Linked DNA regions of Homo sapiens: region 2 is linked to region 1. Evidence: fine-mapped expression QTL. A gene starts in region 1. The other region holds a variant in brackets. All regions are shown on one strand. Distances are from middle to middle. Region 1 holds the start of POLA2 (DNA polymerase alpha 2, accessory subunit). Region 2 holds the start of LOC124902691 (a long non-coding RNA gene).

The links. PIP is the estimated chance that this variant, and not a neighbour inherited with it, causes the effect. A credible set is the group of variants that fine-mapping cannot tell apart.
Region 2: its variant is the best candidate, but not a certain one, in a credible set for the expression of POLA2 in spinal cord (GTEx, PIP 0.67).

Annotation. Positions count from the first base shown.
Region 1 is chr11:65,259,574-65,263,957 of GRCh38, reverse strand. It overlaps POLA2 (DNA polymerase alpha 2, accessory subunit), which reads right to left and starts at 1,996. Exons shown (of 18, transcript NM_002689.4): 1 at 1,587-1,996. The coding sequence starts at 1,665. RefSeq lists enhancers at 1,085-1,970, 1,727-1,976, 1,971-2,858.
Region 2 is chr11:65,320,502-65,324,885 of GRCh38, reverse strand. It overlaps CDC42EP2 (CDC42 effector protein 2), which reads right to left. Exons shown (of 2, transcript NM_006779.4): 2 at 2,469-4,342. The coding sequence starts at 3,987. The coding sequence ends at 3,355. LOC124902691 (a long non-coding RNA gene) reads right to left here and starts at 1,141. Exons shown (of 2, transcript XR_007062728.1): 1 at 798-1,141. The variant C/G (reference allele first, on the strand shown) is at 2,565.

The sequences.
Region 1 (4,384 bases):
ACTGGCATCTTGGCCTGAAGCCTTTACAAATCTGGTTCACATAACTAATTTCTCTCATGCTGATTTCATGCTTACCACATACATTTCTGACTATGATCAGGTTTTCCACTTAAGTCTTTTTTTTTTTTTTGAGACAGAGTCTCGCTCCTGTTGCCCAGGCTAGAGTGCAATGGTGTGATCTCGGCTCACCACAACCTCTGCCTCTCATGTTCAAGCGATTCTTCCGCCTCAGCCTCCTGAGTAGCTGGGATTACAGGCATGCGCCACCACGCCCGACTAATTTTGTATTTTTAGTAGAGACAGGGTTTCTCCATGTTGGTCAGGCTGGTCTCAAATTCTCGACTTCAGATTATCCACCTGCCTTGGCCTCCCAAAATGCTGGGATTACAGGCGTGAGCCACCACACCTGGCTAGTCTTCTTTTAAAAAGAGAAGGACCGAGCCTGCTGGCTTATGCCTGTAATCCCAGCACTTTGGAAGGCCAAGGTGGGTGGATCACTTGAGGTCAGGAGTTCGAGAGCAGTCTGGCCTACATGGTGAAACCCCTTCTCTACTAAAAGTACAAAAAAAAATTAGTCGGGCCTGGTGGCGGGCGCCTGTAATCCCAGCTACTTGGGAGGCTGAGGCAGGAGAATCGCTTGAACCTGGGAGGCGGAGGCTGAAGTGAGCCGAGATTGCACCACTGCACTCCAGCCTGGGTGATAAAACAAGACTGTCAAAAAAAAAAAAAAAAAAAAAGAGAGAGAGAGAAGGCACTGGGCATGAAGACTTGAAGTATTCTGGTTTCTGAAAGGAATTTCTCACCATAAATTAACGTTTCGTTATCTTTTTGTATATAAGAAGTTCAAAGTGTTGAGTGGTTAAGGCAGGTGCACATTCATACCGATTCTAGAACTTCCACATCTCCCAGGCTTTGCTTCAAATGACTCCTTACACTGCTCTACAGCTTGACCAACACGATGGACCCGTATGATGCAGCACGGGACTCCAAGGCAGGACACCTGGCTTCACAGACAGCTCAGGCAATTAGCTTTCCTTGTCTGTTTCTCCATCTGTAAAGCTCCCTAAAGCTCCTTCCACAGCTCAAATTCAATTTTAGGAACCTACCTCAAGGGATTCATATTTGCACAGACCACCAACAGCTATGATAAAATAACTGATGGATCAGCAGAGGTTTAAGGTGTAGGCTGGAAAGGGAGGAGCCAAGAATAAAAAGCTACATTTCAAAACCCCCACATCTGTTGCTTTGTTACCGGGGCTTCAACAATTTCCAAACTCAGGTGCCACCAGTGCCTAGTCTCTATCTAGCACATCCCAATTCCGCCTTTCGGGAACTTCGAGTTGGTTTAAAATCGTGCTGCATATTCCTATTTTTGATTTGGCATCCAAGCGGTACCCGGTGGGCATTTCAAAGTCCCCACATCCTAAATCTCAAAACTCAAGTTTGATTCTTCATCTCACAGCCACCGAGAACTCTGCTCCAGGGGAAGTGGAAATTGGAAGCGCTCCACTTTCGGTTCTAGGCGCCGAGGAACTCGGGCGAGAGCGTGGAGCACGGCTGCAGGGCGGGAGGGGTGCGGGACTCACATTTCTCAATTAGAGCCTCCTCGCAGTCTAGGCCGAAGATCTGCAGCTCCTCCGCCAGCTGCTGGGCGGATGCGGACATGGTCGCCCAAGCCAGGGGCCGGGGAGCCGGCCCACCCAGCTCCGACCTGCGCCCAAGAAGCCCACGGGGGTGGCGAGCGATGAGCTCCTCGCCCTCTTATCCTTCCCCCCTCCGCGGACCGTGACAGGAGGTGACTGGCCCAAGCAAGACCTCAGACCGTCAGAAGGCCCCGGCCGTCGGTCACAGAGAAATACTTTTTTTAAAAAATGAAGGGGTGGCTCCCAAACGCCCTGAATGGAGGGAGCAGAAATCTCGAGAGGACGCTCTCCTGGTGAGAACGTCCTGCTTCCCAAAAGCTACCGCTGAGCTTCTCAGTGACGGTGGCAGAACTGAGTGGCCGGAAAAACCCGCCAAATGGTTTGTGCAGTGCACGCATGCGCGAAACCGGGAGCCAACCCCAAACCTTCCCCTTGCTTTCCCCGGCTCATTCCGGAACCCCACGCGCGCACGCGCGGCCCAGGGCGCGTGCGCATCAGCGGGCGTGTGGGCGTCTCTACGCACGCGCCTGGCGGCCCGCCAGTCAGCAGCTGCGCAGTTCTCTCTCACGGCGCGAGAATGCCGGTTGTGACTCGCAACGCCCGGGAGTTGCCTACAAGGAAACTGAGTCTGTGTGCGGATGCCTGTTTTCTGGGCATCGGCTGCTCGATAAAACTCAGTGGCGCATGTTTGTCACCCTTTTGCCCTGTTCCGTGGTGCGCAGGCGTTGTCGTGCGCGTGCCTTCGACTATCTAAAACTTACTGTACCCCCTTCTCCATTCCCCTTGTCATCTCTGCCTGTTGTGCCCTTGGTTCATCCTAAAAGAATGGCTTCAGTAGGGAATCTGGTTGCCATGGTTATTATCGTGCTTATCACCGTGGTGCCAGCCACAGTGATGGGTATGTTTTCTGAATCTGGGGCATTTGGGGGGATATGAGGTGGGAAGGTGACGGATAATTTAGTTTTGGACACGTTAAGTTTGAGTGCCTCTGGGATTTCCAGGTAGAGATTCCCAGTGGGTGACTGGAGGCTTGGGAGTGAAGGTAGGTCACTCAAGGATAGAGTTTAGGGGTAAGATGAGAAGAGGGTTCTCCCCTTGAAATACACCGTAATTCTTTGAGCCAAAAATCTCAACCGTAGGCGTCATACAATGCTGGTGGGATGGTATAGAGCGTTTCGAGAAAACAATTTAGCAATATGTATCAGGAACCTTTAAAATGTCCATCCCAGGCCAGGTGCGGTCACTCACGCCTGTAATCCCAGCATTTGGGAGGCCGAGGCAGGCGGATCACTTTGTAGCAGGACGAGCCACAGACAAAACTCCTCAGACACCCGAGTTAAAGAAGGAAGGGGTTTATTCGGCTGGGGTCATCGGCAAGACTCCTGTCTCACCAGCCGAGCTCCCCGAATGAGCAATTCCTGTCCCTTTTAAGGGCTCACAACTCTAAGGGGGTGCGCCTGAGAGGGTCGTGATCAATTGAACAAGCAGGGGGTACGTGACTGGGGGCTGCATGCACCAGTAATTAGATCAGAACAAAACAGGATAGGGATTTTCACAGTGCTTTTCTATACAGTGTCTGTAATCTATAGATAACATAACTGATTAGGTCAGGGGTCCATCTTTACCAAGCCTAGGGTGTGAGGCCGGGCTGTCTGCTTGTGGATTTCATTTCTGCCTTTTAGTTTTACTTTTTCTTTCTTTGGAGGCAGAAATTGGGCGTAAGACAATATGAGGGGTGGTCTCCTCCCTTAACTTGAGCCCAGGAGTTCAAGATCGGCCTGGGCAACGTGGCGAAACCCCTTCTCTACAAAAAATTAGCGGGCGGTGGTGGCGGGTTCTTGTGATCTCAGCCACTCTGGGGGCTGAGGCTGGAGGAGCGCTTGAGTTCGGGAGGTCGAGGCTGAAGTGAGTCATGATCGCCTCACTGCACTCCAGCCTGGGCGACAGAGCAAGATCGTGTCTCAAAAAGCAAACAAAGGCCGGGTGCGGTGGCTCACGCCTGTAATCCCAGCACTTTGGGAGGTCGAGGCGGGAGGATCACGAGGTCAGGAGATCGAGACCATCCTGGCTAACACGGTGAAACCCCGTCTCTACTAAAAAAAAAAAAAAGAAAAAAAAAAGAAAGCCTAGCGTGGTGGCGAGCACCTGTAGTCCCAGCTACTTGGGAGGCTGAGGCAGGAGAACGGCGTGAACCCGGGAGGCGGAGCTTGCAGTAAGTCGAGATTGTGCCACTGCACTACAGTCTGGGCAACAGAGCGAGACTCCGCCTAAAAAAAAAAAAAAGCAAACAAAAACCGAAGTATGTGTGACCTCTAGTCAGCCAATGGCTGCTTGGCTGTATTTTGAATTTAGGCCTAGTTAGCCACTCCGGATCCATCATGAACCTCTTTTGGGGTTCACACCCTTAAGCCTCAAATATTTACTCTCTGGCTCTTTACGGAAAATGTTTGCAGTTTCCCACCATCAGCAATAACCAATGGATATCAAATGTGTTACATACATATTTTTCCCAACCTGTCTTTTAACTTTGTGGGTTTTTTTTTCTACCACACAACACTGTGCAATTCTTTTCCTGTATGGGTTTTAGGTTTCCTGCTTTGTTTAATAAGGTCTCCTCGACCTAAGCTTATGCAAATATTCTTCCAATTTTTGTTTTATTAATTTTACTTACGTTTTGCCTTTAGTTCGCTAATCCACCTAGAATTAATCTTATTTGTGATGTGAGGAAGGATTTAGCTTTG
Region 2 (4,384 bases), 61 kb before region 1:
ATCCCAGCACTTTGGGAGGCCAAGGTGGGCAGATCACCTGAGGTGAGGAGTTCGAGACCAACAAGACAAAATCCTGTCTCTACTAAAAATACAAAAATTGGCCTACAAAAATTAGCTGGGCACCGGGTGCGGTGGCTCACACCTGTAATCCCAGCACTTTGGGAGGCCAAGGCAGGAGGATCACAACATGGCCAAGATGGTGAAACCCCGTCTCTACTAAAATACAAAAAATTAACTGGGCGTGGTGGTGCATGCCTGTAGTCTCAACTACTCGGGAGGCTGAGGCAGGGGAATCGCTTGAACCCGGGAGGCGGAGATTGCAGTGAGCTCAGATCGTGCCACTGCACTCCAGCCTGGCACCAGAGCAAGACTCCATCTCAAAACAAAAACAAAAATAATTAGCCGGGCATGGTGGCAGGCACCTGTAATCCCAGCTACTCGGGAGGCTGAGGCAGGAGAATCGCTTGAACCTGGGAGGCGGAGGTTGTAGTGAGCTGAGATCGTGCCACTGCACTCTAGCCTGGGCGACAGAGCAAGACTCCGTCTCGAAATAAATAAATAAATAAATAAAATGTCCAGAAATAATAAAAAAATGCATTCTCACACACACACACACACACACACACACACACACACACACACACACACTGTGTAATGTTTGTGAAAGGCTGGGGGAGTGGTGGGTGTCTGGGATTCCAAGGTCACACAGGTAGAAAAGAACTGGCTGAGGGTGGAAGAAGGGGCCACCGGGCCCCACCTTAGGCCACTCCCCTCCTCTCTGTCTCCACCATCCTCACCTGGGTCCAGTCCTCCTGCTCATGCCTGCCATGGCTACCTCCATCCCCGACCTGGCGTGGGTGATGTCGTTCCTCAGGTCTAGATCTGACCACCTATCTCTTCTGCTTTCACGTCCTTCAGCAGCACCCCATCGCCTCAGCGTCAGCCTGGCCAGCGAAACTCTTCCCTGCTGCCGCCAGCCTGTGTTCCAGCTTCACAGTCCCGCCCTTCCCGAGCCCCAGTTCTTTCCTTCATCACACACTGCAACCATTTGTAACACCTTTCCTGGACGGGCATGGTGGCTCATGCCTGTAATACCAGCACTTTGGGAGGCTGAGGCGGGCGGATCAACTGGGGTCAGAAGTTCGAGACCAGCCTGGCCAACATGGTGAAACCCCGTCTCTACTAAAAATACACAAAATTAGCTGGGAGCAGTGGCAGGCATCTGCAATCCCAGCTACTCGAGAGGCTGAGGCAGAAGAATTGCTTGAATCTGGGAAGCGGAGGTTGCAGTGAGCCGAGATTGTGCCACTGCACTCTAGCCCAGGTGACAGAGTGAGACTCTGTCACACACAAAAAAACAAACAAATAGACAACAAAACAAAAAATTAGCCAGGCATGGTGGCGTGCACCTGTAATCCAAGCTACCTGGAAGGCTGAGGCAGGAGAGTAGCTTGAACCCGGGAGGCAGAGTTTAGTTAGCTGAGACTGTGCCATTGCACTCCGGCCTGAGCAACAGAGTGAGACTCCGTCTCAACAGAAAAAAACAAAACAAAACAAAACAACAACAACAACAACAAAAAACCCTTCCCTGTGGCTAGTATAAATGTTATCCCTAGTTTTCTCAATAACCCTGTGAGGTAGCTATCAGTGGCTCTTTTTTTTTTTTTTTTTTTTTTGAGATAGAGTCTCACTCTGTCACCAAGGCTGGAGTGGAGTAGCGCAATCTCGGCTCACCGCAACCTCCAGCTTCCGGGTTCAAGTGATTCTCCTGCCTCAGCCTCCCTAGTAGCTAGGATTACAGGCACGTGCCACCATGCCCAGCTAATTTTTGTATTTTTAGTAGAGACGGGGTTTCACCATGTTGGCCAGGATGGTCTCGATCTCCTGACCTCATGATCCACCCACCTTGGCCTCCCAAAGTGCTGGGGTTACAGGTGTGAGCCACCATGCCTGGCCTGCTCCATTTTAGAGATGGGGAAACTGAGTCTCAGGCCAGGTGCAACTCGGAGGTCCACGCTCTTTTGCTGTGTGGTGTCTGCTCTGTCTTCACTCTGGTTCCTCAGTGCCTGTGCTTACATATGAGTTATCTGGCTGGTAGCTCCGATTTGGCTCAGAATCACATCTGATCACATTAATGAGCCCTGACACTCCCTGACCTCCCTGCTAGGCATTCCTGATCACGTTGTTTTCTTCGTAGCCTTTACCACTGCTGGAAATCATCTCTTATTTGTTTACCAATTTAATATCCCCCTTCCAACTAGAATTTAAACTCTTAGAGAGCAGGGATGGCGTCTGCCTTGTATCCCCAGCACCCGGAGCCGTGCCTTGTATACTGGAGATGCTCAGTAAACAGCCGTGGATGGAATGAATCTTGAAGCAGCACTGTTAGACCCTCCCAGCTCCAAGCATCCCTCCTGCATGCTCCCTCGGTGCTCTTAAGCTGGAGAAGCTGTTGGTCCCTTGCACACTTTGTGGTTATTCTTTTATTCTTGGGTGTCCCCCACCAGACCCCAGCTGACTGGGCAGGGATTGGCCCCAGGCTTGGCACAGTGCCAAGCCCACCC[C/G]AGTGCTCAGCCACCTCTTGCCAAACATCTGAATCAATGTCACAGCAACACTTGGTTTGCTCCTGTTGCATTCTCATGACAGGCTCAGCGTCAGGTACGACGTTCTTGAGGGCAAGGCCTGTCCTCCACAAAGCCCTCTGGGGCTGGGGTCTCCAGAGGCAAGCCCTCAGCTCTGGGAGACTGTCTGCCTCCGGGAGGAAACCTGGGGCAAAGGGACAGGGAGCTCCGCCACCAGCAGCAGCATGTTTTATTGCAACCAGAATCCCCGGTCACGTGGGGAAGGGATTGGAGCTAGGGATGAGGCAGGACACATCTGGTCCCTGACAGGACACTCCCCGTCCAGGATGCAAAGCCAAAGGCCCGGAACAGCCTGCTCAGTGGCTGAGCCCTGTGGCCAGCTGTGCCCTGTCTCTTCCCCTGCCCCCAGTCAGGGCATCCAACGGGGCAGAGGCAGAAGGGACGTGAAAAGGGGGGTCGGTTTCAGCAAAGCCTTCACCCAGGGACCTGAAGGAAGAAGGAGTATTGTGATGGGGTCCAGGTGCCCCAAGATGCTCAGGGCGCCTGGGCTGACTTCAGGATGTGTCCATGTGGTTATCAGAGGAAAGCGATGGGGCCTGCCCTGCCCACGTGGAGAGGGAGGGAGAGGGGAAACACGGCTCAGAAGGAGAATCACTGGCCAGCGACCATACAGGTGGGATCTTGGGACCCTGACTCCGCCGCCAGGGCCGGGTCCACACCCCACCTCCTGGCTGGGCCCCACCTGGGACCCCAGCCTAGGCAGCCTCGTGTCCTATGTGGGGATCTGCATGCTGTCCAGGTCCTGATCCATGATCTGCAGGACATCATCCAGGATGGAAGGCCCCAGGTCCACGTGCAGGGACAGCAGGGAGCTGGCATTGGACAGGAAGGGCTCCTCGGCCCCTGACTCCGGGGTCAGTCCACTGTTGGGGGAGCCAGTCTCTGGAATCCTCCAGATGTCCACACTCCCTCCCTCCTGTGGGGAAGGCTGAGGGGTCTCCAGGTGCAGGCGAGGGGGCTTGGGTGGAGCCTGGGCTGTGGGCAGGGTGAGAGCCTGGGGTCCACCGATAACCGGGAGGGAGATGGCGTTCTTGAGCAGAGGGGATGGGCCGTCCGGGAGCTCCCGCCCACACACGGTGGCGGTGCGGGTGAACTGGAAGGGGAGGTCGAAGGTGCCATCTTCTTCAGGCCCCTCCACCATGGTCCCCGGCAGGAGGTGGAACTTGCCCTGCAGGAAGGAGATGTCGCCAAACATGTCACTGCCGCCGCCACTGCCAATATGAATGGTGTGGCGGAAGTCCCCCAGCGGTGGGCTGATCATGTCCGAGGACAGCAGGTCCCGAAGCTTCTCCTTCTTGCCCTTGCGACTGCCACGCTTCAGATAGATGGGCACCTTGGTGGACATGGTGACCTCACCACCAGGCCTGGCTGTGAGGCTACGGGCCGCCTGCTGAGACCACACCTCCTCTCCAACCCTCAGCCAGAGGAAACACTCGTTCCACGGGGTGGTTTGCAGGTGCCAGAGCTCGCCAACGGGCTTCTGGCTACAGTGTGGGGGCACGAACAAAGTTGGCCCAAGGAATTAAAAAAGATTAGAGATCAATGAAGTCAGTGGGCTGAGATAACAAAAATCACGTTCTCCCCAAAGGACGGCAAACTCTTCTGAAGAATTGAAGCCAGAAAGGTAGGAACTGTGTGGGCAGCAGTGCACTTTGGTCTTGTCACCGAGGGTTACTTGTCCCCGGTCCAGGGCTGAGGAGCTGAAACACAAAGGGTGCACACCTGTCAGAGACAGCGGGACC